Homo sapiens: one gene and its partners. The protein of the gene in region 5 purifies or fractionates together with the protein of the main gene of each other region. This does not show direct contact. Each region holds a gene or a part of one and is shown on either strand. Other genes may lie near its edges. The genes, in order: LYAR, KSR1, RSL1D1, PYM1 and ZC3H8.

Region 1 (6,149 bases), on a different chromosome or scaffold from region 5:
AACAAAAATAACCATTCCAGTTGTCCCCCTTGATCTGCAGGGGACAGTTCCCAGACCCCCAGTGGATGCCTGAAATCACAATGGTACTGAACCCCTATATATACTGTCTTTCCCTAAATATTCATTCATGCCTATGACAATGCTCCACTTATAAATGAGGCACAGTAAAAGATTATCAATAACTAATAATAAAATAGAACAATTTTACAATACACTATAATAAAAGTTATGTGAATGTGGTCTCTCTGTGTCTCTCTAAATATCTTATTGTCCTATCCTCACCCTTCTTGTGGTGAAGAAGGCATACAGCAGGACAGCAAGAGATCTCGCCATGCTGCTCAGAACAGCATGCAATGGAAAACTTATCAATTGTTTATTTCTGGAATTTTCCATCCCACAGATATGGGGACACTACTGTTTACTAAGTTGAGAAGGGGGTTTTAAGCTTAGAGATCTAACCCAATGCTGGCAGTCACTGAACTCTGCTAATAAAGCTGCAGGCCCATTTGAGTCTTTGGACCTGTTCTGAACTGCAGGATCCTGGGGGTTGGGGGAGGTGGCAGAGAGATGACGACTTGCCACCTCCCGACAGGTATGAGTGCTTCAGGCCTGAAGAAGCAGGAGAGAAGCTTTGTGTAAGAGACAGCATTTCAGAGGGCCCGTGAAGGCCAGGGACTGGATTCTGAGGTTGAGGATACAAGCAAGGAGACCCCAGAAACAGGCCCAGAGATGGGCAGGGGCACAGTTCAGGGGACTTCTAAGAGAACAGTGAAAGGCAGGGGCAAGAGAGTTGGGGAGGAGCGAAAGGGAACCGGGTCTCAGAAAGCTATATTGGGCTTATTTAAATTTCAAAGATAACATACATTTCCAAACCAGACTGCTTTACTTTTCTCCTTAAAGACAGTGGGTGAGAGGCACTGTAAGACTGACTCACACACCCTAGAGAACTGATTTTACTTTCAAATTCTTATATATACCTCTGGAGGGTAAGACCCTACTAGAAGTGCCCACATTACACCTTCCTTCCCCAGAAGGGGGCATCTCTCGGCCCCTCTCCCAACCTACAAGGGACCGTGTATTTCTCTCTTTTCTTTTCTCTCTCTCTCGCTTTTTGAAAGTGGTACGCCCATGGCTCACTACAGCCTCACACTCCTGAGCTCAAGTGACCCTCCTGCCCCTGCCTCTGAAGTAGCTGGGACTATCAGCGAGAGCCGCTGTGCCCAGCCGTGCTCCTCAAATGACAGCAGTGATATACCTTTTGCAGGAGCCTCATCGTCTTCTGGTTCTCCGCCCTCAGGATGCTCTGGGAGCTTCATCTTTTTCTTCTTAGAATCTGTTTCAACTAAGTATTTGGAAAGATTTTTTTTAAAGAAGATTTTGCATTTACGCTAGCAGCTACCATTTAATGAGACCTTATGCGAGCTAGGCAAACTCCACGTATCATCTCATTTCTTCTCCAAGCTGCCCAGCCCCGGTTTATAAAACCCCAGGAGGGTTTTATCCTCCTCCATGCTGGAGATGGGATGAAAGGAGTTGAGAAGTGAGGTCATTTGCCTGGGCAGGGCCCACCTCTGCCTGGCCACAAAGCTTATGCTCGTTCCCTTACTTGGTTCAAAACATAAGGTCTAGCTAGGTGCGGTAGCTCATGCCTGTAACCCCAGCACTTTGGGAGGCCGAGGGGGGCGGATCACCAGAGGTCAGGAGTCCGAGACCAGCCAGGCTAACATGGCGAAACCCCATCTCTACTAAAAATACAAAAATTAGCTGGGTCTGGTGACACACGTCTGTAATCTCAGCTACTCAGGAGGCTGAGACAGAAGAATCGCTTGAACCTGGGAGGTGGAGGTTGCAGTGAGCTGAGATCGTGCCACTGCACTCCAGCCTGGGCAACAGAGCAAGACTCCGTCTCAAAAAAAACAAAAAAAAAAAAAACCACACACACACGCACACAAAACGCTAGGTCTAACAGGCTTAAATATCCCAAATTCACAGCTTTCCCGGTTTTCAGATGAATCCCAGAGCGTGAGCTAGCCACTTACCTTCCGAGTGCCTCCGCTTCCTCTTCCCTGCGCCCACGCGTGCCTCTTCCTCACTGGCGCTGTCCTTGCGCTGCTTCTTCTTCTTGCTCCTCTTCCCTGCAGAGCCATTGGCCTCAGGGACTTCCTCCCCACCAGCCTCAAGGTCAGCCTCCTGTCCCTTTTTGCGCTTCTTAGGCTTCTGATTCCTTGAGTTTTCCTGGTGGTTTTCTAACTTTAGTTCTTTCTTTTCTCTTTTCCTTTTCTTCTGCCGTTCTTCCTTTCTTTCTCTTTTATTCTTCTTCACCTCCCCTTGCTGTTCCACGGCGTCTTTCACTTTGGAGGCTGGAACCTTGGTGGAGATTTCTGCATGTGGATTTGCCACTGGGTGGAGTGGCCGTTGATCCTGTTCCTTATTGACTGGTTCCTTATCATTAAGCAAAAGCAAGAAACACATATTCATTTTAAATGTGTAAATAGAGTTGTCACGTTATTGCCTGGGCCTACTACATAAACTGTTCAAGAAAAACGGTTGGTTTAATCCCTTATCGTTTTATAACTGTGACCCCCACCAACAGCTAAAATGTAGCAGTAAATATACAAAATGGGAAACCACTTCCCCCAGTCCACACCCCTCTGTCTGCACAGAACAGACATTTTCATTCCACTGGAAAAGTGAAGAATCCTTATGTCGCTGAAGATAAGACCTTTCATTCCAGCTCACTATTCACCTTTTAGATAAGAGAAGAGTACTTAGGGGTGGTAGAAACCACTGGATGTTATGTGTCTGCAGACCTGGGTTCAAGCTCCAGTTCTATTAATTCCTAGTCAGGTGACTAAGGGCAAGTCATTTATCTTTTCCAAACCTATTTCCTCATCTGTAAAATGAAAGGTAGTAATACCTACCTCACACACGGACGGATGAAACGAGGAAAGATCCGTCATGTGCTTATTAGCATAACACATGCCCAATAAACCAGCCCATTGTGTGTGAAGAGTTTTGTAAATTATCAGCCTTAGAAAATGGTACTGTTATTATCATCATTATTCAGACTGGAAAGTTACCATTAGAAGAATGGTCACCATTCTCATCATTCTTTTTTTTTTTTTAATGGGGACAGGGGTCTTGCTTTGTTCTGTTGCACAGGCTGAAATGTAGTGGCACAATCTCAGCTCACTGCAACCTCCAGCTCCCAGACTCAGGCAACACGCCTGCCTCAGACTCCCAAGTAGCTGGGACCACAGGCGCAAGCTATCAAAACCGGAAAATTGTTTATTTTCTGTAGAGACGGGGTCACCATTCTTTACGTATGGAGGTGTCTCTCTAATGGTTACCCCTGTTAAATACATTACCTCATTTATGTATTTTTTTTGGGACAGAGTCTCACTGTCACCCAGGCTGGAGTGCAGTGGTGCAATCTCAGCTCACTGCAACCTCCACCTCCCAGATTCAAGTGATTCTCCTGTCTCAGCCTTCTGAGTAGCTGGGATTACAGGCATGCACCACCACACCTGGCTAATTTTTGTATTTTTAGTAGAGACAGGGTTTCACCATGTTGGCCAGGCTGATCTTGAACTCCCAACCTCAGGTGATCCGCCCGACCTGGCCTCCCAAAGTGGTGGGATTACAGGTGTGTGCCACAGCGCCAGGCCTTGCATTACCTTATTAAAATCAGCACATAGAGCCTACTTTAAACAGTGACATCAGCAAGTTCAGTCCCATTCCTTCCTGAACTCCCTCCCTGAGCCCCTTTCTCAAGAGATGACCTGGAGCAATTCATTGAACTGTTCCATGTTCCCTGATGCCTCTGGAGGGAAAGAGAGTGGCCAGTGGCTGCTTCCAGGTGTGAGAAACCACTGAGCTGATGCACCTGCAGGCGGGGGTTCAAATTCCGTCTCTGTTAGTCTAGCCAAAGGACAGGGTAAGTTACCTACAGTCTTCCTCCTTTGGGAGATTGTGGGTAGCAAGGACTATGTCCTCAAAACTGGACCAAATAAAAAAGGACAAGCTTTCACTAGAGTGCAAGGACTCAGGACTCAGACCTTAAGGCTCGATCCTTGGCTACAAGAGCAGCATTAGAAAATGGATACTGGGGAGGCTGAGGCAGGAGAATCACTTGAACCCGGAAGGTGGAGGTTGCAGTGAGCCAAGATCACGCCACTGCACTCCAGCCTGGGTGACAAGAATGAAACTCTGTCTCAAAAAAAAAAAAAAAGAAAACGGATACTGTAGGCCGGGTGCGGTGGCTCATGCTTGTAATCCCAGCACTTTGGGAGGCCGAGGTAGGGAGATCACCTGAGGTCAGGAGTTTGAGACCAGCCTGGCCAACATGGTGAAACCCTGTCTCTACTAAAAATACAACAATTAGCCAGGCGTGGTGGCAAGCGCCTGTAATCCTAGCTACTCGGGGGGCTGGGACAGGAGAATCACTTGAACCCAGGAGGCAGAGGTTGCTGTGAGCCAAGATCGTGCCACTGTACTCCAGCCTGGGTGACAGAGTGAGACTCCGTCTCAAAAGAAAAGAAAATGGATACTGATGTAACCACCTGGTTTTCTCAGTAGCAGTGGCTTAGCAGCATCAGGTTGTCAAGGCTCATGGGGTAAAGGGCAGAGGAGGATTTCAGAAATAGACTTAGGAAGAAGGGGACAAAGAAACTTCACATCTGTCCTACAATTCTGTCGATATCTTCTAGTAAAATATTATTATCATTATGATTTTTTGAGACTGAGTCTCGCTCTATCACCCAGGCTGGAGTGCAGTGGCACAATATCAGCTCACTGCAACCTCCGCCTCCCAGGTTCAAATGATTCTTGTGCCTCAACCTCCCGAGTAGCTGGGATTCTAGGCGCCTGCCACCACACCCAGCTAATTTTTGTATTTTTAGTAAAGACAGGGTTTCACCATGTTGGTCAGGCTGGTCTCAAACTCCTGACCTCAACTGATCTGCCTGCCTCAGCCTCCCAAAGTGCTGGGATTATAGGCATGAGCCACTGTGCCCGCCATAAAATATTATTTTAACCACTGAGAGCCTGAGACCCTGGCATCCCTTCTACACAATCCAGACCAGATTTTCAGCTGGTGCCTTGCCTCTTTGTCTAAACCAACTCCTCGGCCACAGGGAGAGAGGGAGGGAGGCACACATTTACCCATCTGGTAGCTGCTCAATAAATAGGTGAACCAATTCTTCCCCATCTTCTTTTTACCTCATTACACACTCTCCTCAAATGTGGTCTCCTCTGTGATGCCCTGACTCTTTCCTAATCGAGCACCTCCTTCAGTCCTGGCCTCCCAATGCCTCTGGCTTCTTCCCAGTGCTGATCAGGACCTGACATTACACCATGGACCCGCACGTGGTGCCTATCTCCCCCACTAGAACACAGCTCCAACCAGCCAGGACCTTGGCCTAATTACAGTTGCATCCACAGTGATCAGGTGAACTGTGATGGGGTAGAGGACAGAAAAGCATCCGACCTGACATCTGGCAGAGTTACAGGAGGATAAACAACCAAGGTACGGAGGACAAGGCCTCAGGACCCTCTGCTCTGCACTACAAACACAGGGTATGCTGGGAGGGCCGTGGTGCAAAGGCAGAGGTAAGGGATGACAAGCTGCGTTTCGCAGAGCTCAGGGTTTACCAGGGGCTGTTTACTCCTTATTTTATTTAATGTTTAATATGTTCACACTTCAAAAGGGAAACTGGAAAAAACTTTCTAAAACCCTGCAGTTGAAGCAATTTCAAATCTTTGATTCTTAGTTAAAACAGAAATAACCTTAAAAAATAGATGCCACATAAAGGCCAATCTAATGATCGGTTATACGGTTTCAAAGGGCCAATTTGTACCTTCTGAAAGAGACAAACGCTAGGTGTACTACCGAGATAAATTTTCATCTTGATGCCCACTTGTTGCCGAAAGTATTCTCTCTACATAAGTGAATCAACTCCCGATAATTTGATAAGAATGAAAGACCAGTGGGGTTCTGACCCCACTGTTTTTTGAAACTGATATTTACACAAAAATAAACAATGTAATCAACAATGTGGCTGAAAGATAGCAAACCAAGATTTTCTACATATATAGTCCACATTTAGGGTCTCTATTCAACCATTTTGACTAACAGGTGGCTGATTTAA
Region 2 (5,893 bases), on a different chromosome or scaffold from region 5:
CCATTCGCAGTGGTTAACCCTGGTCTTCAGGAGATGAGAAGCAGCCCTCGTGAATGTTTCTTCTCAGAGCTCTAGTATTCAAAGTCGCAGACCTGTCTCGGAGGCTCTGTTCTCTGCCCTGTAGACTGAGGGATCTTTTCAAAATGTGAGTCTGCCACCTCACACTCATTAGGATGGCTGTGATTAAAAAAAAAAAAAAAATCCAGGAAATAACAACTGTTGGCTAGATTGTGGGTAAACTGGAACTCTGTGAAAACAGCATGGCTGTTACTCAAAAATCTCAACATAGAATTACTATATGATCCAGCAATTCCACTTCTGGGTATATCCCCCAAATAACCAAAAACAGGAACTCAAAGAGACATGTGAACACCCATGTTTGTAGGAGCATCATTCACAAAAGCCAAGAGGTGAAAGCAACGCATGTCCATCAATGGATGAGTGGTCAACAAAATGTGGGCCAGACATACAATTCTATAGATAGTACAAATAGCCCACGTTTGAATCTTGGCCCTGTCATTTAATTCTTGTGTGATCTTCAATAAGTTCCTTAATTTCTCCAAGCTTCCTTTCCTCACCCATAAAATGAGGCAAATGAATGTGAACCTTAGAGAGATGCTGTGGGGATTAAATGGGCTAATGCATGAAAAGGACTTGGGGCTGAGCTCCGCACGTAGTGCCCACACACCAGCACCTTTAGAGTCACTCCTGGACTGCACTGATCCTGCGCCCAGACCCATTCACCTTCGCCAGTAGTAGACTTCCTCAAGAAGGAATCCTTCCATCTGCAGTGACACCTCCAGCACAGAGGGCCTCGGCAGGGCAGTCAGTGATGCCCGCAGACACCTGAGTCCTGTCGTACAATGCAGGGGGCCCTGGGTCGTCTTGTCCAGTTCCCTTTGGAAACCTCATTGTATTGGTACAGCCGTACTGAACCACATTAATCACTAAAACATGCATGCACATCCCCCCCACTGAGAACATTCTCTTTGAGCGTATTCTACCTCCATAAAGTCAGATATATGGTTCTAACTGCTTCCTAATGGCAAATTAACAGTGCAACTCTCTCCTGTAAACAGACTATGACAAAACAGTACTTGGTTTGCCTCACTCAGTAAATCCAGTAGTAGTTTAAGGCAGCAGTCACCAAACTTTTTGGCACCAGGGACCAGTTTCATGGAGGGCAATTTTTCACGGATGGAAAGGGATATACAATGATTTCAGGATGAAACTTTTCCACCTTAGATCATCAGGCATTAGACTCAGATTCTCCTAAGGAGCGCACAACCTAGATCCTTCACATGTGTAGTTCACAATAGGGTTTGTGCCCCTATGAGAATCTAGTGCCGCTGCCTAACTTCATCCTATTGTGGTTGGAGAAGATGCTTTGTATGTTATGTTTAAATCTATTGAGACTTAATGTGTGGCCTACCACGCGGCCTATCCTGGAAAATGCTCCACAACCTAGCACTGTCTTATGAACATAGTAGGTGCTCAGTAAATGTCTGACCAGCAAATTCCTAGACTTCTGGAGAGATTCTGGAGTGAAAGCTGTGGCCTGAGTCCTGGATTGGCCACCCTGCAGCTGTGTGATCTTGGGTGAATACCTTAACCTCTCCGTTTCTCATTTTCCTCAGCTGAAACATCACAATTCTTACCTCATGGCCTTGTGAGGATTAAAGTGAGATGGTGTTTAGAAAGTACCTCTTCTCCACCTATCTGTATATATAACTGGCAATGAGGGGCTCCTAGATATTGGATTCAGATGAACACCACCTCATCCCTCCAAGGCTTCCATAAGGCTAAGGCATCTCCAGCTCAGGAGATGCTGGGCCTGCTCATGGCTTTGTTGCTGCTGGGGCCTGGATGATCTTCCTCTGCGCATTGTGGGCCATTGACGCTGTGCCTTCTCCATTCCTCCATCTGTTTAGAAACACCTGCCACTGAGGTCCTGGCATAACTTCTTCCTTTGGAAGGAGCTCCTTAATCTATAGACCAGGGGTTCAGTCACCCCAGACCTATCCATTCCCATGCCACCCATCCAAATGGTCCCCAGGACTCAGCTGGAACTGACCAAAGCAAAGACAAGCCCCAGAACACCTTGGTATAACTTTATTCACAAACTCCAGACACCCAGGCCTGGCTTAGCACAGAGGGCATGTTCTTGCCAGTGGCAAAAAAACCCGATACAGCATGTTTGTTAATACTAACCATTTTAATTTAAATTAATAGCATGTCTGGAAGACAAATGTAGTTGATAGAAAATATAAAAACTTTACTGTACAAATTTTACATCACATTCAAAAAAAGCAAGTGTGTGGCTTGTGGCCACAGAAGATGCTAGGTTTGCACGCTGATGAGATCCTGGCTAACACTGCTGCATAGCACAAACTCCAACTGGCTTCACATTTACGTCTCCACCCTCCCCCCACACCAAATCAACACAGAATAACACAGGTTTCCAGGGCTTGCCATTCCTCTCTGTGACCTCAAGAGGAAATGCCGTAGGATGACAGAGGGTGTTTTGATTTGGTGACATGGAGAGATCAACTTTGCTACACACTGCTCACAACCCCAAACTAGCTAGGATTCAAGACTTCGAGTTAGACAGAAACCCAGGGGGCTGCGGCTCTGGTGGTTAAAGGCAGCAGGGCTTCAGAGGTGAGGCTGGAAACTGGGGATGCCTGGAGGGCCAAAGCTTGGGCTCCACTCTCAGACCCCCGTGGGGACTTCCGCAGCCCCTAAGAGCTCTCCCCGAGCCCTCCCAGCCTTCTCCATCCCCTTCACAGTTGGCCGTGAGGGCTGAATTCACAGTATCTGTCATCCTTCGTGTGGAGAGAGCACACAGAAGGGCAGGTGTGCCTTCCTAACCTCAATTCACAGTCACTGAAATACAAGGGGAACAGAGGGGGCCATCATGGGGTGGGGTGGGGTTCTTTAAAGGCAGGCAGTGCAGAGGTGGCAGGCTGAGAGCCAGCTGCCCCCAGTCCTTCAGTTCCACCTTTGGGGCCCAGTGGCTTCTGGGTTCCTTGAAGACAACAGGGCCCCACCAGGTCATCAGTTCCTTAAGAGCAGGGACCATGACTGTTCCTATCTCTAGGTGCCCAGCACTTGCAGAAGACCAAGTGCACTGTAGTTGCTCAATGAGCGCTTCTTTAACTGTGATGCTCACGAGAAAAGCAAAACCCAGACTGACTTTCTGTGGGCCTGTGCATGCCCACTGCGGCCTGGTGTCAGGGGTCAGGGAGGAACTGAGCCTACTGTTCCTCCCAGTTGGACGGCTGAGCTGACATCCAACTGTGGGGCTCACCAGTACATCCATCAGGCCTGCTCTTGCCTGGACAAAGGCCACCATTGCAATAGAAAGGTGAAAGGCTGGAGACACACGTGATCCCTGGGAAGGGGCAGGTGTGTGGGAGGCCAAAGGGATGATGGGGCAAAATGAGCAGTCCCACCATAGCACAGAAACTCCACACGGAGCTGAATCCACGGGGTTTACAGCCTCCCCACACAGACTGGGAAGGGTGAAGATGCTGATGGCCAGGCACACTGGCACTGTAATACGGCTGTGCCCTCCCAGGAGGGGCTGACCAAGGGATGCCAGGCCTGGAGAGGAGGCAGCTCCACAGCTTGCTGGCAGAGCAGCTCATTTTCTGTGGCATTTTGACCAGACTCTGGTGCTAGGGAAGGGGCTGGAGACTGGGGCTCTGCTAGGCAGGTCTTAACTGGAAGGGGTGGGAGCCACACCCCTCCCTCCCCAAGTCTGAGCTCAGAGCATGGTCACAGGTTCTGGGCCTGAATCCAATCACGTCTCCACTCCCATCACCCTTTTTCCTTTCTGGTTTTGGAGTCTAATGCAACCTAATCTCCACTTAAGGGCTCCCTTGCCATCTGGAACTTTTTTCTGCAGTTAAGAGTTTCTAACGAAGACAAGCGTGGTGCTCTCACTTCAAAGACTTTTCCAAATCCAGCCCCTCCTGCTTCAAATGGACACAAGTAGAAGGCCTAATGGTGCTAAGGAAGGCTCTGCAGATGGGGGCCAGCTAGGTAGGTCTAAATGAAAGGGGTGATAGCCCACACACTGCCCAGCTGAACTCAGAGCATGGACAGAGGAGTCGGAAATAGGCTAAGGGGTTTCAGCAGGACTGAAATGGAAGAGGTGGGCAGTTCTAGAACCTTCTGGCATGACTGACAAAGGGTTTTTACAGTGCCAGGGTCACCCTGTGGCTGGGAAGTGGGCTCAGGTACTTTTGCCATCTACTCCTCCTTGTTCCCACCCATCCAGCCCTCATGGTCAGATGTCAGTCAGGGACTGGGATGTATCTAAAAGCCAAGGCCCTGAGTCCCATCACCTTGGTGCCTGCCTGGGGGCTTCATCAAAGACTCACATCTGTACAAGCCATGGATGTTTCCTCACCTTGCAGCAGAAACCCTGGCTGGGAACCACCGGGTGAGTCCAGACCTTTTTTGGATTCTGTTTCTACTTTTCCAGCAGGAGCAGCCTGGATTACAGGGGTGAGAAGGTGAACCCAAGCTCTCCAGGAATTCCAGACTCCATAAACTAGCTCAGTTCCTAGCCAGGGTTTCCTCTGCAAGACGAGGAAGGGGCAGTATCCCTTTGAAAGGACAAGGGGAGAGCCCTAGATAGATTTCCCTGATGGAGTCTTGGGCCAAAAAGCAGAGGCCAGATCAGACCTTCTGGGCTCCCCGCCCTACCCCAAGAACAGCTGCAATTACCATGTTTGTCTTCCTTCTGGCCCAGCATGGGTCCCTCACCGCCTACAAGGTCCTCAGAGGGGATGGCCATTTCCGCCATCCTGGCCGTCAGTGCCAGTGCATCTGCACAGACTGTTTTTATTATTACCTATTGTAAAACATCAGGTTCACTCAGGAGAAATATACGTGTAAACATTTGCTGTCTGTCATGACAGGTTTGGTTGTTGGTGGTGTCATTTTAAGAAATAGCAGGTGCAGCTCCATCTCCCGAGTGGGGTTTATGGCCAACAGTCTGAATCTAGGACGTGTGCTCCTGGTTTGCAGCGCTGGGCAGGCAGTGTTTTTTTGTCGTGGTGGTTGTTGGGATGTTTCAGAAACACATTTTAAAAAGAAAGAGATCAGCAGCGAAAAACCATATGGCTGGCTACATCTTTGGATTACTGGACTCCAGGACGCCCAAGCCAAACCTTTCAAACCGGGGTACAACTTTGCTGCTGTTAATGCTGCAAAGAGGAACAAAAACAAGAATTATAGCCCCATTGATCTTCATCAGAATTAGGGTAACACTAGCTAGGAAATGAGTTCAGCAGAGGACCTGGCCTCCAACAAGAAATGAAAATGACTGATTGGCCAACAGCCCTGGCAGAGCTGCCCCTGGTCATACTGCGTCCAAGGCCTCAGCTACACTCCAAGTAGTCCTACTTGGAGCAGCAACGGTGGCTCATTCATCTCCAAGTCCCAAGCTCCCAGCATGCTCAGTACTGCTGTGGGTTCCTAGGAATTGTTTTCTCATTTGCAGCCCAGGAAAGCTCTTGCTCCAAGTAGAACTGAGAGAGAAGAGAAACATGACTCCCAGGATACCAGGAGTGACAGGGCATGTTCCTTTTAGCAATAAACTCTAATACTGGGGTGCATCAGGGCCACCTGGGAAGCAGGTTGAAATGCAAATTCCTAGGGCCCCATTCCAGAGATCTGGGTTCAGCAGGTCTTGCTGGGGAGGGAGAACAGAAACCTGCATTTGGTAAACAGTGCATTGACTGCCACAGGGGACTCAGCAGCCATGCTCTTGACAAATGCTGACCTGGGGTCTGGTCTATGGTACACTGGGCAGCTGTAAAGGAAGTAACTTTGCCAGGGTGGCAGGGTGGGGACGGGGCAGAGACTTTGTTTTCATCAG
Region 3 (6,149 bases), on a different chromosome or scaffold from region 5:
AGTTCTGTGGCTGGGCGTGGTGGCTCACGCCTGTAATCCCAGCACGTTGGGAGGCCAAGGTGGGCAGATCACGAGGTCAGGAGACCGAGACCATCCTGGTTAACATGGTAAAACACCGTCTCTACTAAAAAAATACAAAAAAATTAGCTGGGCATTGTGGTGGGCGCCTATAGTCCCAGCTACTTGGGAGGCTGAGGCAGAAGAATGGTGTGAACCCGGCAGGCGGAGCTTGCAGTGAGCTGAGATCAAGCCACTGCACTCTAGCCTGGGCGACAGAGCAAGAACTCTGTCTCAAAAAAAAAAAAAAAAAAAAAAAAGAGTAAATAGTTCTTGTCCCTGGTGGAATAGTGTCTTTCAGCTACGAGCAAGACCATCCCTTCAGGTGAAACAGAGTGCAGGCAGAAGCCCAGTGGGAAGCCTGGAGGGCTCAGCGCTGGGGCCAGAAGGAAGTGAGCCAGAAGGAAGGCTCACTGTCGGCACAGTGTCTGCGGAATGAGGAATGAGACGGACTGTTGCTCCTCTCTCTCTTCAGCCAAAGACTGGGCACTGCCCACTCCCTGTGCCTGTCACCACCTGCCTGCAAGCACACCTGAGCATCCCAGATGGAAAGATGGTGGGGGGGAAGAAGGGAGAGGAACAGAAGTGGAAGAGGAAAATAAATTCTTTTGCTGGGGAAAGGTAAGAGAGGAAATAAAGAATGATTTCTTTTTTTCTCAATTGTCTGCAACTTTCTTTAAGCTGTTGCTTTTGCCTTGGAAAATCCCCAGTGGCAGGAGACTGCTGCTCCTTTACCTGCCTTCATGGTACCATCTTCTTCTCCCAGATACTCATGGGTCCCATAAACAAGGCCTGAACTTCTAGCCAACCACTTCCATGAGCCACTACTTTGACATTAGCCTTTAACCAAAGGGGTAGGGGTCTAGGCTCCGTGACCAACTCTTCTAGGCTACTTCATTACACCTGATGAAGGGATTCCCAGCAGCAGGCTAAAGACAACACCAGAGACCACCTGTCCTGCCCACCAGTACCCTGCTCTGCTCTACCTGGAGACACTCCCCTGGGGTCAGGCCTCCCTGGTGAGCAGAGGCAAGAAGTCTGTGTTGTTTTCTGCCGACTGTGTCCACTGGGTCTGCACGGCTCCTGGGGAATCTCTGGGTGGAAGGGCAGTGGCCTACAGCTCTGCCTTACTGGCAGCTAGCCATCTCCACACCGCAGTCAGCAAGTGCAGTACTTCATAAAATGTATTTTCAATACATTTAAAACCTGCCCTACCTCCCCAAGCTGATACACTGCCAATAATACAAACTTAAGTCACTTCTCAGCCTAATAAAATAGCCTGAACCGCATCCTTTGCTCAGCCAGAGGTTGGAAGCAATCACTGCCCTAAAACATCTGTTCTAGTAGGTAAGACTAGGTGTGGGGGCTCCGCCTAGCTCAGTATCCAGGGTAAGGTTAAACCAATATGACAACACACACACCAAATAGGCAGATGAACAGGATAAGTGCTGAATTCATTTAATAGGAAGTTAAACCAAGAATGAGGTGGATCTTCACGTTAAGGGGTAATATGGTGCTTTTAAAGGACAATCTGAGGCCAGGTGTGGTGGGTCACGCCTATAATCTCAACACTTTTGGAGGCCAGGACAGGAGGACCGGTTTTGTCTAGGGGTTCAAGTCTAGATGGGGCAAAATAGTGAGACCCCGCCGCTACAAAACATTGAAAAATTAGCCAGGTATGGTGATGTGTGTCTGTAGTCCCAGCTACTCAGGAGGCTGAGGTGGAAGGATTGCTTGAGCCAAGGAGTTGGAGGTTGCAGTGAACTGTGACTGCACCACTGAGTGCAGTGGCACGATAAAGGACAAGCTCAAAGCCTAGAACTAGTCATGTTCTCCAAGCATTCATCTTACTCTCCTTGCTTTTCTTAGTATCTGGAGCTGCCCCGTCCAATGCAGTGACCATCAGCCACTAGCCACATGTGCCTATTTTAAATTAACTAAAAATTCAGCTTCTAACACAGTAGCCACATTTCAAGTGCTCAATAGCTACATACAAATAGTGCCTACTGTATGAGACAGCACAGATGCAGGCCATTTCCATCACAGTAGAAAGTGCTATCAGACAACATTGTTCTAGAGAACTGAACTTTTTTTTTTTTTCATTTAAAGACAGTCTTGCTCTGTCATTCAGACTGGAGAACAGTGACAAGAACATGGCTCACTGCAGTCTTGACCTTCTAGGCTCAAGTGATCCTCCTGCCACAGCCTCCTGTGTAGCTGGGAGCACAGGGATGCACCACCACACCTGACTAATGTTCTTGATTTTTCTGTAATTGGCTGGGGGAGAGGGTCTCATTATGTTGCCCAAGCTGGTCTTGCACTCCTGGGCTCAAGCGATCCTCCTGCCTAGGCCTCCCAAAGTGCTGGGATTACAGGCATAAGCCACTGCACCTGACCCGAGAATTGATCACTTCTGAGGAATAGATTTTAGTTTTAAAAAAGGATCTGGAGCCATTAACAAAATCTTTTTAAAAAGGCCAGGTGCAGTGGCTCACGCCTGTAATCCCAGCACTTTGGGAGGCCAAGGCGGGCGGATCATGAGGTCAGGAGATCGAGATCATCCTGGCTAACTCGGTGAAACCCTGTCTCTACTAAAAATACAAAAAGAAATTAGCCGGGCGTGGTGGCAGGCGCCTGTAGTCCCAGCTACTCGGGAGGCTGAGGCAGGAGAATGGCGTGAACCCAGGAGGCGGAGCTTGCAGTGAGTCGAGATGGTGCCACTGCACTCCAGCCTGGCAGACAGAGTAAGACTCCATCTCAAAAAAAAAAAACAAAAACAAAAAACAAAACAAAACGAATAAGTATATATAAAATCATTGTCAAATACAAGATTAAAAGAGGCACACATGAATGCCTTTTACCTACCTGCAAGAACCACTTTTAGAAATGTTTAAGACTGTTCCACCTATACAGTCATTGATCTCTCTTGATAAATTCTTGGACAGAAGGTTTACAGATACTGGAACTCTACAAAATAAACACACAGGCATTCAGAACACAATGCATACACACCTAGAAGCTTCATGCTGCTAAAGTCCAGTCATTACTAAGAAACTTACTTCTTTCTTTGATAGAAATGTCTCCCAATGAGTGAGGGTAAGAGCCGCCTAATTCTGGCATCAGTAAGGAAGAAATCAAAACTGCTCAGAAGGCGGAGCTTGGCTTCATAGGATTTATATTCCTTCTTTAGAGTTTGGAGGGAGATAATCTAGGAAGTATAGAGAAGAATAAAAACAAGAAGTTAGGAATCTAAACAAGGAGAAGAAATACTTAGGCAACAATTTGGATTTGGATTTAAAAATGTCCTAGAGCCATGCCTCTATACTTTAATGAACACTTGAGGGCCTAAAATGTGCCAGGCACTACGCTACATGCTGGGAACACTGAGACAAATGAGAAAAGACCCCAGCTAAAGCAACTTAGATCTAGGTGGGCAACATATATATATTATTATACATATGTTGCTGTATGTGCTTACGCCTGTAATACTAGCCCTTTGGGAGGCCGAGGTGGGTGGATCACCTGAGCTCAGGAATTCAAGACCAGCCTGGCCAACATGGTGAAACCTCGTCTCTATAAAAATATAAAAATTAGCCGGGCATGATGGCAGGTGCCTGTAATCCCAGCTATTCGGTAGGCTGAGGTGGGAGAATAGCTTGAACCTGGGAGGTGGAGGTTGCAGTGAGCCGAGGTCCTGCCATTGAATTCCAGCCTGGGCGACAGAGCGAGACTCCAAACAAACAAAAAAACTTAGATACCTTAGATCCAGAGGGTAATAAAGACAAGTACACCAACTACAAAACAGCAAATCAGAGAAAAACAAGATGCTGTGGAAGTACAGAGGAATGACACGAGCCACCTCTTTTATAATTTGCAAGATATAAAAGCTACTGATGTACACGCCACCACAAATTAAATTAAAAAGAGAAAAGTAGAAGAAAAATACTAGGAAATATAGCAATGTATTTGTGATACCATTTCGCCTGAATTAAATCCTCTAAATAACTTGAAAATATTAACCAGGCTTCCTACCTGAGAAACGGTTTTAATTCCATGCTTGTTTAAAAGCTTTCTATAAAACTGTTCTGTCTTTTCAGGAGTTGAATTGGGTTCATCCTTCGTAAATAAACAGATATCTTCTGAATCTGATCGAATACTATGAGGCAAGGTCCTACAAAATACGTGAAAAGAAACCGAGGAAAGCATTATTACACACATTATGCATGTTTGTATCACACAGAATACGCGATAAACTTAGTGTTATTTAAATAACTTTTAGTCATGCTAGTTAAGCAAATAATGCACCAAGAACAACACTTAAAAATACATTTCATGGCCGGTAGTAGTGGCTCAAGCCTGTAATCCCACACTTTAGGGAGGCCAAGGCAGATGGATCACCTGAGGTCAGGAGTTCAAGACCAGCCTGGCCAACATGGTGAAACCCTGTTTCTACTAAAATTATAAAAAATTAGCCAGGCACGGTGGTAGGTGCCTGTAATCCCAGCTACTTGAGAGTCTGAGGCAGGATAATCGCTTCAACCCGGAAGGTGGAGGTTGCAGTGAGCCAAGATCGCACCACTGGACTCCAGCCTGGGTAACAAGAGGCAAACTCCGTCTCAAAACACAAAAACAAAAAACAAAACTCACTTTCAATGGCAAGTAAATCACAAAAACACACAGGCCCAAATATCAATTAACACTTGGGATACAACAAGAATTAAAATATACTTAAAGACTTCCAAATGCTTGCATATATAATTATTATACATATGTTGCTGTATGTGCACACGTACTGTAATGCGCTATAAAAACCTAGCTTAATCAGGACAAGCCTGGTTCAGAATTTTACCTTCTTTAAAACTCTTAGCTCCATAAACATAATAACTCTTTCTTCTTTTCCTTTTTTTGAGACAGGGTTTTGCTCAGTACCCAAGGCTGCAGTGCAGTGGTGTGATCATAGCTCACGATAGCCTCCAGCATAGCTGAGACTCCAGGCACGTACCAGTTGGGTGTAGGCCCAGCTAATTTTTGTATTTTTCGTAGAGACAGGGTTTCGCCACATAGCCTGGGCTGGTCTTGAATTTGTGGGCTCAAGCAATCCACCTGCCTCAGCCTCCCAAACTGCTGAGATTACAGTGTGAGCCACCACACTCAGCCAACATAACTTTTTTTTTTTTTTTTGAGATGGGAGTCTCACTGTCGCCCAGGCTGGAGTCTCTGCAACCTCTGCCTCCTGGGTTCAAATGATTCTTGCACTTCAGCCTCCCAAACAGCTGGGATTACAGACGCCCACCATCATGTCTGGCTAATTTTTGTATTTTTAGGAGACATGGGATTTCGCCATGTTGGGTCAGGATGATCTCAAACTCCCAGGCCTCAAATGATCCACCCACCTCACCTCCCAAAGTGCTGAGATTACAGGGATGAGTCACCATGCCCAGCATAACATAACTTTTAAGAATTGAAACAGCCCAGGCATGGAGGCTCATGCCTGTAATCCCAACACTTTGGGAGACTGAGAGGGAGGACTGCTTGAGCCTGAGTTCGAGACCAGCCTGGAGAACACAGTGAAACCTCATCTCCACAAAGATTTCAAAATTAGCTAGGCATGGTGGTGTGCACCTGTAGTCCCAGCTACTTGGAAGGCTGAGGTGGGAGGATCACTTGAGTCAGGTCAGGGAGGTTGAGGTTGCAGTGAACACAGATCTCACTATTGTACTCCAGCTGGGCAACAGCGCAAGATCTCGTCTCTTAAAAAAAAAAAAAAAAGGAGAGATAAAAGAATCGAAACCAAAAACATGGACTAAACCAAGAGGGACCAGCAAACACAATTATGCCACATCTTACAGAAAATAAAATACAAGGGTTTAACTCATTTCTTATGCTTACAACCTATGTTCTGAAGAAGCATTCTGTATAATCACCATGGATTTCTTTTCCATAGACAGAAATTCACTGCAGTTTTTAATAGTCTCTGTACAAAGGAATAAATTGTAGCCCCAAAGAATTTTTGCTTGACATGGAAAGATAACAGTTTCTAATAAAAAAATAAAATAAAATAAAGCTGTTTAACTTATTCCACCTTTATTCTT
Region 4 (6,149 bases), on a different chromosome or scaffold from region 5:
AGAAAAAGGTTCTGGCTTTGGCATTTTGGAAATCCCTGGTTATCTCCACAAATACAGCCTCAGAAAAGCACGGTGGTAAAGAGGCCAGACTACAAATTAAACAAAATAAACATTAAAAGCCTCCTAGCTGGGCTTGGTGGCACACACCTGTAATCCCAGCTACTCGGGAGGCTGAGACAGGAGAATCACTTGATCCTGGGAGGCAGAGGTTGCAGATCATGCCATTGCACTCCAGCCTGGGCGACAGAGCAAGAGTTTATCTTTAAAAAAAAAAAAAAAAAGCCTCCTAGAAGAAAAGTACCGTAAGTGCCAATAGGGTTATCAAGATGAGTAAGATGGTCCCAATTTTCAAAAAATTTACAGACTAAGTAAGGAGGAAGTGGGCAAATTAGGCAAGCAAAGCATAAGACAAAAGTAAGAGTGTCGTAAGTATCCTAAGAGATGACAGGAGATAATCAGGAAAACCTCATTTGACACTAAAGACTAGAAAGTAGTAATAATTAATGATAACAACAAATCAGCAGCCAGTATTTCTGCAGGCAGAGAAAAGGGAAAGGGGATAAGAGGAACAACAAAAGCAAAATCCTAGCAGTGGAAAACTCAGTATTTAAGAATGATTAGTAAAGAGTATTTATTAATAAGTAGCTACATTACAGGAGGAACTTTGTATACATCATCCTGTTAAATCTAAACGATAGATAGATATCATCATTTACAGCCAAGGAAACAGTCTTCAAGAGGTTAAACACATGGTCAAGTCTTGGTGCGGTGGCTCACGCCTGTAATCCCAGCACTTTGGGAGGCCAAGGCGGGCGGATCACCTGAGGTCAGGAGTTCGAGACCAGCCTGGCCAACATGGCGAAGCCCCATCTCTACTAAAAATACAAAAATTAGCCAGACGTGCTGGCACATGCTTGTAATCCCAGCTACTCGGGAGGCTGAGACAGGAGAATTGCTTGAAGTCAGGAGGCAGAGGTTGCAGTGAGCTGAAACCACACCAGTGCACTCTAGCCTGGGTGACAGAGTGAGACTCCAGCTCAAAAAAAAAAAAGACATGGTCAAGATCCCAAAGGTAGCACATATCTGTAACCTGAACTCAAGTCTGATGCCAAAGCTTACACACCATCGCACTGCTGTTCCACATCAGCCATACAGCCCAGTTTCACTAGAGGGTATGGGCAAAAACATAGCATGTGATAATACTACATTTAAAAGTAGTCAGCCAGGCACGGTGACTCACGCCTGTAATCCCAGTACTTTGGGAGGCAGAGGCGGGCGGATCACCTGAGGTCAGGAGTTCAAGACCAGCCTGACCAACATGGAGAAAGCCCCGTCTCTACTAAAAATACAAAAATTAGCCAGGTGTGGGGCACATGTCTGTAATCCCAGCTACTCGGGAGGCTGAGGCAGAAGAATCACTTGAACCCGGGAGGTGGATGTTGCGGTGAGCCGAGGTCAGGCCATTGCACTCCACAGCCTGGGCAACAACAGCAAAAGTCGGTCTCAAAAAAAGAAAAAAAGAAAGTAGTCTGAGGTTGGGCGTGGTGGTTCATGCCTCTAATCCCAACACTTTGGGAGGCTGAGGCAGGCAGATCGCTTGCATCCAGGAGTTCAAGACCAGCCTGGGCAACATGGTGAAACCTCTTCTCTACAAAAATTAGCTGGGCATGGTGGCGCACACCTGTAATCCCAGCTACTTGGGAGGCTAAGCTGGGAGGATCACTTGAACCCAGGAGGTCAAGCCAGCAGTAAACTGCAATCACACCACTGTACTCCAGCCTGGGCAACAGAGTGAAACTCTGTCTCAAAAATAAAAAAAAATTTAAAAAGTAGTTTGTCAGCTGGGCGCAGTGGCTCACCATGCCTGCAATCCCAGCACTTTGGGAGACCAAGACGGGTGGATCACCTGAGGTCAGGAGCTCGAGACCAGCCTGGCCAACATGGTGAAAGCCCGTCTCTACTAAAAATAAAAAAAATTAGCCGGGCGTGGTGGTGGGTGCCTATAATCTCAGCTACTTGGGAGGCTGAGGCAAGAGATCACTTGAACCCAGGAGGCAGAGGTTGCAGGGAGCCAAGGTCGCACCATTGCACTCCAGCCTGGGCAACAAGAGCAAGACTCCATCTCAAAACAAAAAAAAATTAATTAATTAAATAAAAAGTAGTCTGTCACAGCCATAAAGAGCAAAATAATGTCCTTTGTAGCAACATGGATGCAGCTGAGGGCCATTATCCTAAGCAAATTAACACAGGAACAGAAAACCAAATACTGCATGTTCTCACTTATAAGTAGGAGCTAAACACTGGGTACTCACGGACATAAAGATGGCAGCAACAGACATTGGGGATTATTAGAGGCGGGCACGGGTTTAAAAACTATCTACTGGGGCCAGGCACAGTGGCTCACGCCTGTAATCCCAGCACTTTGGGAGGCCAAGCTAGATGGATCGCCTGAGGTCAGGAGTTGGAGACCAGCCTGGCCAACACGGTGAAACCCCAACTCTACTAAATACAAAACTCAGCCGGTCATGGTGGTGCATGCCTGTAATCCCAGCTACTTGGGATGCTGAGGCAGGAGAATCACTTCAACCCGGGAGATAGAGGTTGTAGTGAGCCAAGATCACACCACTGAACTCCAGCCTGGGCAACAAAGCAAGACTCCATCACAAAAAACAAACAAACAAACAAAAAAAAAACTTAACTATTGGGTACTAAGCTCACTATCTGGGTGATGGGATCACTCATACCCCAAACCTCAGCATCACATAATTATACCCATGTAACAAACCTACACATTTTCTTTTTTTTTTTTTTCTTTTTTTTGAGACGGAGTCTCGCTCTGTCGCCCAGGCTAGAGTGCAGTGGCGTGATCTCGGCTCACTGCAAGCTCCGCCTCCCGGGTTCACGCCATTCTCCTGCCTCAGTCTCCCGAGTAGCTGGGACTACAGGTGCCCGCCACCATGCCCGGCTAAGTTTCTTTTGTATTTTTAGTAGAGATGGGGTTTCACCGTGTTAACCAGGATGGTCTCAATCTCCTGACCTCATGATCCGCCCGCTTCGGCCTCCCAAAGTGCTGGGATTACAGGCGTGAGCCACTGCGCCCAACCACAAACCTGCACATTTTCTAAATCTAAAATAAAAATGGAAATCAACAAATAGGCCAGGCATGGTGGCTCACGTCTGTAATCCCAGCACACTAGGAGGCTGACGTAGGAGGATCACTTGAGCCCAGGAGTTCAAGACCATCCTGGGTAAGATGGTAAGACCTCCATCTCTATAAAAAATTTAAAAATTAGGCTGGACATGGTGGCTTACACCTGTAATCCCAGCACTGGGAGGCCAAGGCGGGTGGATCACCTGAGGTCAGGAGTTTGAGGCCAGCCTGGCCAACACGGTGAAACCCCGTCTCTACTAAAAATACAAAAATTAGCTGGGCGTGGTGGCACGTGCCTGTAGTCCCAGCTACTTGGGAGGCTGAGACAGGAGAATCGCTTGAACCTGAGAGGCAGAGGTCGCACTGAGCCGAGATTGCACCACTGCACTCCAGCCTGGGCGACAGAGCAAGCGTCCATCTCAAAAAAACAAAAATAAAAAAGGTAGTCCTATCATTTAATCACATTTCCCAAAGCTTTTGTTATGTAAAATACTACTCCCATAAGATATTAAACAGGGGTTATCCCTAAAAATTGTTAAATAAGTTTGGGAAATTCTGGGTTAAACACCAAAAAAGATTTTGCGTTTGTTTTTTTTAACAGCAAGGCTTAAATGAGTTACTATGTTCTTATTCAGGTACATATGCAAGATGGGAATATGGTTTACAGTGTTTCTCAAAATTTGTGCACAGAAACATTATTTGCATTTTATTTTATTTATCTTTGAGATGAGGTCACTGTCACCCAGGCTGGAGTGCAATAGCTGGACCTTGACTCACTGCAGTCTCCACCTCCCAGGCTCAAGCAATTCCTCCCACCTCAGCCTCCCAAGTAGTTGGGACTACAGGAGTGTGTGTGTCACCACACCCAGTTAATTTTTTGTATTTTTAGTAGAGACGAGGTTTTGCCATGTTGCCCAGGCTGGTCTCGAATTCCTGGGCTCAAGCAATCCACCCGCCTCAGCCTCCCAAAGTGTTGAGGTTACAGGCGTGAGCCACCACTCCCGGCCTCTATTTTAGTTATTTATTTTGTGTCACATCTCAGAAGATTACTAGGTGTTTCAAGGATTCATATTTTAGAAAATAACAGCCAATCTTAACAGTATAATTCAAAATATGTCATTTTACCTTAATGTTATATATGCATATGTGCTTAGAAAAACTAGGCTGGGGGCCAGGCATGGTGGCTCACGTCTATAATCCCAGCACTTTGGGAGGCCAAGGCAGGCAGATCACCTGAGGTCAGGAGTTCGAGACCAGCCTGGCCAACACGGTGAAACCCCATCTCTAACTAAAAATACAAAAAAATAGCTGGGCATAGTGGTGCGTGCCTGTAATCTCATCTATTTGGGAGGCTGAGGCAGAATAGCTTGAGCCCAGTTGGCAGAGCAGAGATCGCGTCACTGCACTCCAGTCTGGGTGACTGGAGACAGAGCAAGACTCCGTCTCAAAAAAAAAAGAAAAAGAAAAAAGAAAAACTAGGCTGGGTGCAGTGGCTCATGCCTGTAATCCCACCACTTTGGAAGGCCATGGTGGGAGCACTGCTTGTGAAAATGAGTTTGAGAACAGCCTGGGCAACATAGCTCTATAAAAAAATTCAAAAATTAGCCAGCCATGGTGGCGCATGCCTGTAGTACTAGTACCAGCTACTCAGGAGGAGGAGGCAGGAGAATTGCTTGACCCCAACAGTTAAGACTACAGCAAGCTATGACTGTGCCACTGTACACTAACCTGGGCAACAGAGCAAGACCTTGTCTCTTTAAAAAAAAAAAAGGAAAAGAAAAACTAGTTGCTCATGCCTATAATCCCAACACTTCAGGAGGCCAAGGTGAGAGGATCACTTGAACCCAGGAGTTGGAGACCTGCCTGGGAAACATAGCAAGACCTCATCTTACAGATAATTTAAAAAATCAGGCCGAGCACGGTGGCTCATGCCTGTAATTCTAGCATTCTGGGAGGCCAAGGTGGGCGATCCTTTGAGGCCAGGAGTTCAAGACCAGCCTAGACAACATGGTAAAACACCATCTCTACTAAAAATACAAAAATTACCTGGGAGTGGGGGTGCATGCCTGTAATTCCAGCTACTCGGGAGGCTGAGGCAGGAGAATCACTTGAGCCCAGGAGGTGGAGATTGTAGTGAGCAGAGATCGCACCACTGCACTCCAGCCTGGTGACAAAGCGAGACTCCGTCTCAAAAAAAAAAAAAGAAAAAAAAAGAAAAAGAAAATAACCCTAAATGCCGAAAAAGATGCATGCACAAAAACATTCTAGTGTTCTTATAATAAAAATTCTGAAAACAATCTAAAAGTCCAATAACAGAAGAAAGTAAGATAGGGTGCATGCCCAAACTATAAAACACTCTGCCAGTATTTTAAAAGATGTTTACAGAGTTTTTAATAGCAAGGAAAAACATTTACCTCATAAGGCTAAATGAAAAGGCAAGATATAAAAATGTATATACCATCTGGTTCTGCTATGTTTAAAACAGTTTAGAAAGATATATGCCATATATAACAGCAGACTCTGGGTTGATGAATTAATATTGAACAAAAATTACATAACTAAATTTGCACTTAAGAAGCAGTAATCTGGTAGCAGTGTATCTGTAGAAATGAAACAAGAGAGGGACTGGAAATACGATGACCAGTTTAGGAGGTCACAGTAATATTTGCAGAACAACAGAAACTAGAATTTTAGCAGGCACTTGGAATGGCCCAAGTACTATGCCTGGTACTTGGCCATATATAGTAATTTCTTCTAACCCATACAATGACCCTTACATAATAGTAATAATTATAGAACAATGTGTTGGACACTTTTTATGTGCCAAACATGTAAATTACTTTATTTAAATTTTAATACGCATAATAATCCTGTGTTGCAGGAGTTATTCCAATTTCATTGATGAGAAAACTAAGACTTAGATTCCCAAGGCTATATAGCTAACAAGTACTGTAGATGGGATAAGGGTAACAGCAGTAGGAATAAAAGAATGATATTT
Region 5 (6,149 bases):
CAAATTCATCCTAATAATCATCTAATATTATTTACTACTACTACAGGAACTGAAAAACTTATTTCATATATATCACTTTTCCATATCTATTTCACACAAATAAACAACTAAATATTTGGTACAACTTCTAATTCCACATTAACCATTCATATTTTACAACCTAAAAATATCTATAAACAAGCACCTTTGACTTTGTAATATTTACATATGCTCAAGGGAACATTTTGCCAGAAGATCGTATGGTTGGCTTCAAAAGAATCTTTTAAATTTTCATGTATACTTAGATTAAATTTTTAAGAGACTAGCTCCAACTAACATGAGAAATGAAAGAATACAAATGACTGTAACTTTTCAATAACCTTTTCTCACAGACTGAAAGAATATCTGAAGAAAACATTTTGAAATTACTACTTAACTATTATTTGATGTAATTCTAAAATGTTTATAAACCCGTAACTTGTAACTTTCCTTCCAAGAATCTTTATAACAGGAGTACTATTTTTCTTATTTGATTTGCTTTGTTTAGCTTAGCTTAGCTATTAAAATGGCTAATTATACTGAAGATTTTACATCTTTCCAACTTAAATCAGCAATGAATATACATCTTCCTTTCAGCTACAAGGAAACATATACAAATGAAAAATATTTAAACTGAATTCTTAAGTTATTAGTCCTAATATATCCCATATGCTAACCTAAGAGGCACTCTCCTTAATTATCTTCAAATTCTCATCCTTAGTTCAAACATATTCCTTAAAAAAGAAAAAACAAAAGATTATTAAAAATTATACTTACTTTAGCCAACAATTCTTGTGTTTCAGGAGTCAGTGGAGCATGAGAAAACTTGCAGTATTCTCCCTGATAACATTTTGTTCCTGTATGGTAAAACTTACAAGGATATTCATGTAACCCAAGTGTTAAGGAAGAGAACAATTTTAATCCAATTGAAATAATGTTATTAACTTAATGACTTTATTTTTCCTAAATAAAGACCTCTGTGGCCGGGCGAGGTGGCTCATGCCTGTAGGAGGCGGAGGTGGGCAGATCACTTGAGGCCAGGAGTTCAAGACCAACCTAGCCAACATGGCGAAACCTCGCCTTTACTAAAAATCCAAAAAAATTAGCTGGGCATGGTGGCGCAGGCATGCCTGTAATCCCAGCTACTCAGGAGGCTGAGGCACCAAAATCATTTGAACCTGGGAGGCGGAGGTTGCAGCGAACCAAGATTGTCCACTGCACTCCAGCCTGGGCAACAGAGCAAGATAATGTCTCAAAAAAAAAAAAAAAAAAAAGACCTTTCCTACTAGCAGAAACTGGATTTCTCTATTTAAAGTATGAGATAATAAACTAACTGGAATACATTTAAAAATCTAATTTTAGAAGGACTACATACGTAAATCAAGTTTCTTGGCTATGACAGGACATTTTTTTCCTTCATATCCATTCTTATAATAGAGTACAGGCATGTTTCATATATGAAAGGGGTATATATTTTAAATACCTTGATAAATGTGATCATTTTTAAAGCATTCCTTTGGGGGTGGAGGAATCAAAGTCAACAACGACATATCTTACAAATCTGGATCCTTTGTACATTAGACTTGTTTACAACAGAATAAATTTATATAACTTCAATATTTTCTAGGAAAACAATCCTCAAATTACAATTTGATACTCCTTATATTGAATGCCTGAAGAAAAAAATTTTTTTGTGATGACTAAAGGTGCTATTAACCTAAAATGTTTATGTTCCATGTTTTTACAACTTGTCTGTGCCATTTGCACTGAAGAGCTAAGGCTATTCTGCAAATTAAGGGATGATTAATTTCTACACAGTACAGAATACACAGAAAACAGGTACTCCCAAATTATGTAATCCTTGCCTTTTTATGAAGTAGCTTATTTGAATATAGATTCAATTAATCAGTGTCACAGTAGAAATTGTGATAAGTCTTTCTGGGATTTGAAGAGGTCTCATGGACCCTCTATACCACCCAGGTTGAGCAGAAAGAATCATCATTTGAGAGATTTTCTAAAGAATCCCTCTTTTCTTGCTTATGAAAAAATCCACGTACAATTTAATCACTTTGATACTAAGTTGGGCTTGGATAATATCATTTTGGTATACCTAAAACACTGGTTTCATTAAAAATTTTGCACATTTAAAATGTTCATGTAAATATTTATAAAGTCACCATATCTTGTGATAAAGGATATTATGCAAATACAGACAGTTTTCACCTCTGGTACAATATCCTTGTACATAAAACTTACACATTTCCTTTTTCTTTTCTATCTCTGCATCATGATCAAATTTACACTGGTCTCCCTAGGCCAAAAGAAGGAGCAAGGAAAAGCCATTATTTCTCATAGTCAAGTCATTATGATTTAATTCCTACTAAACTTTAAATAAGCAAATGATTCCAGAAAGAACCAAAGTCTTAGAGGTAGCACATTCTAACTGTTAATAAATTATAACCACATCACATATATCTGCTTAAAATCTTCTTAAGTCCCAAACATTTTTAAACATAAAGCATTTTTTAAAATTATCAGTCGCTCACGCCTGTAATCCCAGCACTTTGGAGGCCGAGGTGCGCGGATCATGAGGTCAGGAGATCGAGACCATCCTGGCTAACACGGTGAAACCTCGTCCCTACTAACAATACAAAAAAAATTAGCTGGGTGTGGTGGCTAGCGTCTGTAGTCCCAGCTACTTGGGAGGCTGAGGCAGGAGAATGGCATGAACCCAGGAGGCGGAGCTTGCAGTGAGCCGAGAATGCGCCACTGCACTCCAGCCCAGGCGACACAGTGAGACACCATCTCAAAAAAAATAAATAAATACATAAATAAAAATTATCTGACTCAGGTGATCCACCCACGTCGGCCTCCCAAACTGCTGGGATTACAGGCCTGGCTACTTTTTTAAACATAAAAGAATACTTCACTAAAATTTTCTAACTGATTTTTTTCCAGAATGAAACAGCTTTAAAAACCTAAAGGTATGAATTAAAAGAGTATCAAACAGAAAGAGCAGTTTTACATTTTAGTAGATTTTTGCTTACACATTTTTATACCTTAATACATTTCCTTTCAAGAAAATATTTACAAATTTGTTTTCCCTTGCGTTCCACTGTATGTTGGTTGATGAATGCCTGACTCAAATGCTGCTGCTTCTCTTTAGGTTTACCATCCTTTAAAAACAAAAACAAAAAAACTAAATGTAAGAAACAGAAAATTAAATATTTTATTCTGTTGCACAAAATTATTTAAACCAACTTCAGAGCCTTAAAGGTGACTCTTCTAAATTGGCCTTCATATGTAAAATTTGGATTTCTGTACACCAGGTTAAAAATGAATGTTTTGTCAGTTTCAACAGCATTCCATCATTGAATATTAATGTTTGTATTGATTTGAATATTTTATGATACATTGCCTTTATTTTGTAAAAATGAATGAAAAAAATTTTTTAAATGGGCCAGACACAGTGGCTCACGCCTGTAATCCCAGCACTTTGGGAGGCTGAGGCGGGTGGACCACTTGAGGTCAGGAGTTCAAGACCAGCCTGGCCAACACAGTGAAACCTCATCTCTACTAAAATACAAAAATTAGCTGGGAGTGGTGGTGTGCGCCTGTAAGCCCAGCTACTCTAGAGGCTGAGGCAGGAGAATCGCTTGAACCCAGGAGGCAGAGGTTGCAGTGAGCCAAGATTGCACCACTGTACTCCAGCCTGGGCAATAGAACGAGACTCCATCTCAGGGAGAAAAAAAAAAAAATTAAATGAAAGTGATAGTATTTATGATTAAAAACCGAAGTCTAAGAACGAAGATCTTTAGAGTGGTAGAGACAAAGTTGGAAATCAGAGTGAACCAAAAGCAGTGGAATCTATAGTTTCAATGAGATGCTCACTGGGTGTGAGTTGAGCACACTTATCAGCTCAAATTAACACACGCAACTAGAAATACACCGTCAAAGATGGTGATAAAGGTATAAAAGGAGATTTTTACATTAAAAAAAGGAAGAAAATCTTATAATACATTTAAGCTCTTCAGAAACATAAGGTACTTTTTACATGTTAACTTATGCTACAGATTACAGCTTCTGTATACCAAATTTTTGCATACAGTTTTAGGAATACAGTATGTACAAACAAGGGAGCTGACTGTACAGTCATTTATAATAATGTCAAATTTCCACTTAGCACCATCAAATTTATGTCTTATAAATATCTGCCAGTTTAAATCTTGTTTTATTTGGTAACATTATTAAATTCTATATATATGTTTAGAATTTGTTCCTTGTGTAGAAGGGCTGTCAGCTTTGGCTGAATAATCATTTGAGCCATGTAAATCAAATCAAAGAGAATATTGACAGGGGGTTGAGAAACAAAATCCTAGTCCTGGCTTGGCCCTGTGTGACTATGGGTAATTACCTGAACCACAGGGCTTCAGATTCCTCATTCATAAAATATGGAGGCAGGGGACAGACTGTATATAAATGTTTTTCAATCTAGAATATTTGGCATTTCTAATATTTTACCACCCCTTACCCTTGTCCCATATGACCAAGCCTAATAAAAAAAGTTGCCATCCAGTTAAAAGCCCTCAGAAAAGTGGAATCCAGAAGAGGTACTTATTATTCTACCCTGCTTACATCTACAGACCAAGGAAAGGGAACTTCTAAAAACCAAAATCAAAATACAGGAAGGTGGGGAGTGGGGAGATTCAGTAAGGCCAATGCTCAGAAATATTGATTTTTAATTTCCAGAGGGAGCCAGGATGAGGGACTTTAGTAGTAAAAAATTTGTAAGACTCAGTGGCCTTTGAAATGCCTCATGACTATTTGATCTTCTCTGGGCTTCCCATTTTTCCCGAGTCATTGATAGTATAACACTAAAAAAAAAAAAAAAAAAAATCAAGGAGTGACCAGGCACAGTGGCTCATGCCTGTAATCCCAGCACTTAGGGAGGTGGTGGGTGGTGGGAGCCGAGGCAGGTGGATCACCTGAGGTCAGGAGTTCAAGACCATCCTGGCCAACATGGCGAAACCCTGTCTCTACTAAAAATACAAAAATTAGCCGGGCATGGTGGCGGGCGCCTGTAGTCCCAGCTACTCAGGAGGCTGAGGCAGAAGAATCACTTGAACCCGAGAGGCGGAGCTTGCAGTGAGCCGAGATCGCACCAGCCTGGGTTACAAGGCGAGACTCTGTCTCAAAAAAATATATGTATAACAATAATAAAAAAAATCAAGGAGCTTGTGTGCATATATTCAGGAACAACAGTGAGAACGCTAAGGCTTAAAAGTGGTGCTGGCAGCTAATCAGTGAGAAAAAGAAAGCTGCAATAAGAAGGAAGAACACAGAGAACCCAGTGACAGTAAAAGGACATCTTCATCCGAAAACCGATTCTGTGGGATGCTTCCACCTCTCCATATCACATAGCACTTCTTGTCACTGAAGTATAAGATCAAGTCCAAAAGCATGCAGGGGTCAGGTATTCCTAGAAGCATATATTCCAATACCTCTTCCTGTGAGCCGCTGTTCCTCAGCAAAGCATTTGATCCTTTGTTTCCAGGGCCAGGCCATTTTCGCTTCATTTTCTTCTGTTTGCCATTCTTGTGACCAGCTTTAAGATTTTTATTTTTTTGTTTAGCAGCTAAAAACAAAAAATTAATTTAAAAAATGACATAAAGTTACAATAGCAGTTTACTTTTAAGAAGTACGGGGCCAGGTGCAGTGGCTCATGTCTGTAATCCCAGCTCTTTGGGAGGCTGAGGCAGGAGGACTGCTCAAAGCTAGGAGTTCAAGGCCAGCCTAAGTGTTCAAGGCCAGCCTAGGCAGCCTAGAGATCTTGTCTCTACAAAAACATAGCTGGGTGTGGTGGTGCACGCCTGTAGTCCAGCTACTCTGGGACTATAGGCTAAGGCAGGAGGATTGCTTGAGCCAAGGTGTTCAAGGTTACAGTGAGCTATGACTGCACTGCTGCACTCCAGCCTGGGCAACAGAGTGAGAACCTGTCGCAAAACAAATGGAAAAAAGAAGTATGATTTACAATAATTGAGGAAAGTTCTCTAAGGCTCAATAAGTGAAAACTGGCATGATAGTGATCAGTTTTCCTAGAAGCTCTGGGACTAAGGGACCAAAAAGAGAAT

The links.
Region 1: the proteins of ZC3H8 (region 5) and LYAR purify together in Homo sapiens (affinity purification with mass spectrometry; one large-scale study listed by BioGRID and IntAct). This does not show direct contact.
Region 2: the proteins of ZC3H8 (region 5) and KSR1 purify together in Homo sapiens (co-immunoprecipitation; one large-scale study listed by IntAct). This does not show direct contact.
Region 3: the proteins of ZC3H8 (region 5) and RSL1D1 purify together in Homo sapiens (co-immunoprecipitation; 2 studies listed by BioGRID and IntAct, with this or other methods). This does not show direct contact.
Region 4: the proteins of ZC3H8 (region 5) and PYM1 purify together in Homo sapiens (co-immunoprecipitation; one large-scale study listed by IntAct). This does not show direct contact.

The regions. Positions count from the first base shown.
Region 1 is NC_000004.12:4,272,328-4,278,476, forward strand, and holds part of LYAR (cell growth-regulating nucleolar protein), read right to left. Parts: intron 2,443-6,149; coding exon 2,040-2,442; intron 1,343-2,039; coding exon 1,256-1,342; intron 1-1,255. UniProt on the Homo sapiens protein: Plays a role in the maintenance of the appropriate processing of 47S/45S pre-rRNA to 32S/30S pre-rRNAs and their subsequent processing to produce 18S and 28S rRNAs. Also acts at the level of transcription regulation.
Region 2 is NC_000017.11:27,622,640-27,628,532, reverse strand, and holds the end of KSR1 (kinase suppressor of Ras 1), read right to left. Parts: exon of another isoform or gene 5,220-5,893; coding exon 5,141-5,219; 3' UTR 2,098-5,140; downstream 1-2,097.
Region 3 is NC_000016.10:11,843,579-11,849,727, forward strand, and holds part of RSL1D1 (ribosomal L1 domain-containing protein 1), read right to left. Parts: intron 4,229-6,149; coding exon 4,090-4,228; intron 3,266-4,089; coding exon 3,117-3,265; intron 3,025-3,116; coding exon 2,923-3,024; intron 1-2,922. UniProt on the Homo sapiens protein: Regulates cellular senescence through inhibition of PTEN translation. Acts as a pro-apoptotic regulator in response to DNA damage.
Region 4 is NC_000012.12:55,915,296-55,921,444, forward strand, and holds part of PYM1 (partner of Y14 and mago), read right to left. Parts: intron 2,454-6,149; exon of another isoform or gene 1,682-2,453; intron 238-1,681; exon of another isoform or gene 148-237; intron 1-147. UniProt on the Homo sapiens protein: Key regulator of the exon junction complex (EJC), a multiprotein complex that associates immediately upstream of the exon-exon junction on mRNAs and serves as a positional landmark for the intron exon structure of genes and directs post-transcriptional processes in the cytoplasm such as mRNA export, nonsense-mediated mRNA decay (NMD) or translation.
Region 5 is NC_000002.12:112,231,043-112,237,191, forward strand, and holds part of ZC3H8 (zinc finger CCCH domain-containing protein 8), read right to left. Parts: intron 5,654-6,149; coding exon 5,520-5,653; intron 3,195-5,519; coding exon 3,078-3,194; intron 2,330-3,077; coding exon 2,218-2,329; intron 906-2,217; coding exon 796-905; intron 1-795.